2 separate regions of the Homo sapiens genome follow, and region 1 is linked to region 2. The links come from fine-mapping of genetic effects on plasma protein levels. Region 2 holds a variant in brackets. A gene starts in the other region. All regions are shown on their forward strands.

Region 1 (2,500 bases), not on the chromosome of region 2:
CACACGACAATTCCCTAAAGTACACATGATTAGTATCCTGCTCTTACCCTAGCAGAGAGTGGTTAAGTAAGTTGTCCATGGTATCACAGCTAGTCAGTCACAGAGCCATCATCCAAATGCAGATATCCTGAATTCAGGTTCTACATTAGACTAACCCACCAGGAATGGAGCAGGAAAGAACAGGGAAGACTCCACATTTTTGGCCTCTATTTGGTAATTATAGTTAACTTTTTAGGTAATTATAGACCAATTATCCTAGATGGGCACTTAGAGACTTTGCAGGACAGCAAGAGCTGTCTCTAATCCTGTGCCCATGACAGACATCACCAGTCAACCACAACACAGTATTTAACTAACGCAAGTCAACTCCTCAGAATCTTTAACATTCTTGTTTGTGCTACTGTACCAATCAATCAATTTGATATGAGAGTGTGCAGGAAAAAACAGGAAACAGGTTTGCAGTACCTCCACACCAGTATTCAATGCTGTAATCCGCTGCAGTGACTCCATTAAAGACTTTGCCTCCCTTATACCCTCTCCAACTAGGGTGCCTAGTGTTATGAACAAAGGGATATGTATAGGTTCTTGTGTTGCCTCTCTCTTTGATATTTTTAGCCATCAGATACCTTGTCTGCAATGTGTGCTCAGAGAGTGAGGGGGGAACTAGATGATTGATTTTCCAAATGTGTTCCCTAAATGTGTTCCCTGGGGAATAAGGGCACGAGAGGCTGCCTATTCTATTTCAAACAAATCCCCTTCACTACAGTGTATTTGATGAGTTGGGGTTTGTTTTAATTCCATTTGGAAAAGGGCTTTAGCAGCTAAGCAAATGGTTTTAAAGTGCCTCAGAAGTCAAGATTAATAGAAACTATCCAGTTCTGATGTCCTATCATGCTAAAATTTCAGGGACTAAGATTCTGTGATCATTACATTGAAACACAGCAGCAAAGCTGTGGTGTGTTGTCCTTCCTGGTTCAGAGATGCAACTATGTGCAGGGCTGCTGAGCTCTCTCTGCATCTGGGTGGGAGCCTAATGGAAGTTTTGGGGCTCCTTCCTGGTCTCCAAAATCCTCAAGACCACCATGTGAACACAGGAATCAAGGAAGGTTCTTAGATCGACTCATCCCCCAGGCCTTTGGTTTCCTTGCTCCTTTCCCCAACTACAGGTGTTTCATTTCAACTCATCCCCTAGGGCCTTGGTTTTCTTGCTCTCTTCCCCCACTACAGATGTTTAACTTCATTTCATAACCACATATTCCCCTCCTTTTCCAAGGCAAGATCCAGATGGATTAAAAAATGTACCAAGTCCCTCCTACTAGCTTGCCTCTCTTCTGTTCTGCTTGACTTCCTAGGATCTGGAATCTGGTCAGCAATCAGGAATCCCTTCATCGTGACCCCCGCATGGGCAAAGGCTTCCCTGGAATCTCCCACACTGTCTGCTCCCTATAAAAGGCAGGCAGATGGGCCAGAGGAGCAGAGAGGCTGAGACCAACCCAGAAACCACCACCTCTCACGCCAAAGCTCACACCTTCAGCCTCCAACATGAAGGTCTCCGCAGCACTTCTGTGGCTGCTGCTCATAGCAGCTGCCTTCAGCCCCCAGGGGCTCGCTGGGCCAGGTAAGCCCCCCAACTCCTTACAGGAAAGGTAAGGTAACCACCTCCAGAGCTACTAGGTCAGCAAGAATCTTTACAGACTCACTGCAAATTCTCCATTTGAAAAATAGGGAAACAGGTTTTGTGGGTGGACAAGAAATGCCTCAACCTCACATCCAGTCACTGGAAGAGCCAGAACTAGAAAGCTCCCGAGTCTTTTCCCCACATTCAAGAGGGTTGCTGGGTGCATCCATACCCAGCTATCCTTACAGTGTTTGGGAATGGGGAATGGCTCTGTCTTACTGTGGGCATGGTGGGCATTTTTGGCAGTGGGAGAGAAGGAAAATCTGTTGATTAGAAGCTCAGTATGTTAATTCGACTCCAGGACAGCTTTCAGAGACAGTGGCTAAGAGAAGAACGAGGTCCCAGGGGGATCTCTTGAGGTGACTTATTTTGACACTCTTTGGGAAAGTTATCTAGGAGATTTGTTCCATAACTCATTTTCCCATACTCTGGTGACAAATTTACTGAGTGTATCGGTCCCACTGAGCCAGTGCATAGCATGGTAACAAACAGTTCTAAATTATCAATGACTTAACAGAATTAACTAAATTAACAAAAGTTACTTTCTCACTTGTACTAAATATCTATAATGTATGGGCTCAGGCTTCTGCATTTTATACTCAGGATTCTAGACTGATGGAGAAGTTGCCCATGTGGGGGAACATTGATGGATACTGTGATAAAGCAGAAGAAAGCTCTCAGGAGTCTTGCATAGGCAATGCACTGTGGCTCAAAAATGACACCCATCACTTTGTCTCCTTCTTTATTGATCAAAACTAATTAATGCCTCCAACCAAACAAAAGTGGCCAAGAAATGCAAGTCTACCTTGTGTCTCAAAACAG
Region 2 (2,500 bases):
TTTTTTTTTTCAGACAGACTCTTGCTCTGTCGCCAGGCTGGAGTGTAGTGGTGCAATCTCAGCTCACTGCAACCTCCACCTCCCGGATTCGAGTGATTCTCCTGCCTCAGCCTCTTGAGTAGCTGGGACTACAGGCATGCGCCACCATGCCCGGCTAATTTTTATTTTTAGTAGAGACAGGGTTTCACCATATGGCCAGGATTGTCTCCATCTCTTGACCTCATGATCCACCTGCCTCGGTCTCCCAAAGTGCTGGGATTACAGCCGTGAGCCACTGCGCCCCGCCAAGTAATTTCTTATTGAATAGGTTTCCACAGAAAACACCTTTTGTCCCTTAGTACTGACTGACTTTCTTAATCAGTAACCAAAAGCCAATCCTTCAAGTAAGCTTCCTTTTTAGCAAAAAAGCCTATATTTCATCTGAGCACCCAGCTTTATAAATCCACCATTCTCAGTATTGCTACAGTATTAATTGCCTTGGAGATGCATCCATGGGCTACTTAGACATTTGCCCAGCCTACTCAAAGAATTCCCCCTACCTTTGAGGAGCCCCTAGCTGCATGCATGTCTTTGAACAACACTGCCCTCCACAGTAACAGATAAGACAGAAAAGACAAGTGACACTTACTCTGGTTCCAAGGGACTTTGTCCGTGAAGTCTTTGTTTCTGGGGCTTTCTGGGTTTTTATGAATTCAAGTTTCAAGATCCTGACCAAGTAGGAAGTACTCAGCTTCCTGTGTGATGATGGAGAATTGGCTCCAGTTTCACAGTCTTTCAAAATGACAAGAAAGGGACAAAGTTCTTCTTTTTGTGTGGTTTGGTGCTCATGAATGGCCACAACGCCCACCAGTGGCCACTTCCTGGAAGCCAAGTTAACTGCGAGGATTTTCTCTGCTCACTCTGAGCCTCTTGAGTCTTGGCCCTGGGAGCTCAGCCTTAAGGGAATTGGGGGCAGGTGAAGCTGAGTTGGGTGAGGTGGGTGGCAGTGAGATGTTCCCAGAATGTTTGGAGCAATTGAAGTGTGGGATGTGTGTATGTGGGATGGGGGCAGGGCATAGAGCTCTTGTGGTCAGCGGCAGACTTCTTTTTTTTCTTCTTCTTAAAGATTGTGAATGGAAGGATTTAAACTGGAACCCTGAGTCCTGTTCCTCAAAACTAACTGACATGGGTGCTCACAGAGGCAGCAGCTTCTCTTTGGCACCCTATGCCCCTCGGCTTCTGGGAGCTCATTGTCCCTCTGCTCTCTGCTCCCCAAGTCCCTCCCCACCAAACCTCAGAGAGTGGCTTTGCCCCAGGAACCTCCAGCATGAAGGGAATATAGGTCTGTTGGTTACATTTTGACCTTCCCTTTCTGATGCCCCATTCCTGTTTTACGTGATGGTCAAACATGGGCCAAGTTCAAATCCCAGCTCTCCACCTGTGACATGGGCAGATCACTCACCTTTCTAAGTCTTGGTTCCTACTCTGCTAAATGGGAGTATTGAATGCTTACCTCAGAGGAGAAGCA[C/T]GAAGTCAACTTGTACATGAAAAATGTCAGAGTGCCTGGCACAGTGAAAAATGTCTGACAAATGATGAGTACTGTGACTCTCCTCACAACTGCCAACACCTACTCTGCCTCTGCCCTTGTGTCTTCTATAAAGTGGGGACACCCCTAACCTTCCTCACGGCATTGCTACAAAGCACTGTTTCAGAAATCATCAGTGTGAATGTGCTTTGAAAAGATCACTTGTCTCTTCATGGTTCAGTTTTCTTATCTGTAAAATGAAGAATTCAGACAAGATGGCCTAAGCTTGACATCTGATCATCACTCAGCTTCACCCCAAAGAAATAAATGGGGGTCTGCATGTGCCTGGCTATTTGCAGTACTTTGCTGGTGGATCAGTTTCCAAAGAGAACAGAGGCTTGTGAGGCCTGCCTTTTCCTTGATCCTGTCTAAAGTAAGGGACATGGTCAGTACCTCATCCTTGACCAGGCTTCCAGCTCTGCTCTAGGTTTCATTCCACAGAGGGGATGTACCAGGCAAATCTGCTTGTTCATTGAACAAATATTTATTCAGTACTCACAATGTGCCGGACATTGTGTTAGGTGCTTGGGATATAGTGGTGAAGAAAGAGGCTGGATCCATTCTTTGAGAGCTTATAGCTTAGGAAGGATCACAAACAATTAACCAAGTTACCACAATGAGGAACAGCTTTTGTAGTGGCCTGGGAAATACCCTGGGCTAAGGAAGGGTGCATCGAGGGTGGGAAGGGGTGAGGAAGTCCTTTAGAGCAGTGGTTCTCAAAGTGAGGTCCCTGGACCAGCAGCATTCACATTCCCTGGGACATTGCTAGCCATGCAAGTTCTGGGGTTACATGCCAGATATACTGACTCAGAAATCCTGGGGATGCGGCCAAGCAATCCAGGTTTTGACAAAGACTGGCATGATTCTGATGCATGCTTAAATTTGGGGGGCATGGATCTAGATTTTCTCAATGCTTTTGGCTCAGAGTCCCATGTG

Alleles and levels. Alleles are on the strand shown, and positions count from the first base shown. The strength of an association depends on the size of the effect and on how common the allele is.
In carriers of allele C in region 2, the plasma level of the protein whose gene starts at base 1,476 in region 1 tends to be higher than with T alone (moderate association).

What was found. A credible set is the group of variants that fine-mapping cannot tell apart. PIP is the chance, under the fine-mapping model, that this variant and not a neighbour inherited with it causes the effect. Protein levels are from antibody-based Olink assays in UK Biobank. Linkage for the fine-mapping came from a reference panel and not from the study's own genotypes, which makes the PIPs less certain.
Region 1: CCL11 starts here. The variant in region 2 is the best candidate, but not a certain one, in a credible set for the plasma level of the CCL11 protein (UK Biobank, PIP 0.51).

Annotation. Positions count from the first base shown.
Region 1 is chr17:34,284,267-34,286,766 of GRCh38, forward strand. It overlaps CCL11 (C-C motif chemokine ligand 11), which reads left to right and starts at 1,476. Exons shown (of 3, transcript NM_002986.3): 1 at 1,476-1,618. The coding sequence starts at 1,543.
Region 2 is chr3:46,207,654-46,210,153 of GRCh38, forward strand. CCR1 (C-C motif chemokine receptor 1) reads right to left here and starts at 660. Exons shown (of 2, transcript NM_001295.3): 1 at 629-660. The variant C/T (reference allele first, on the strand shown) is at 1,508.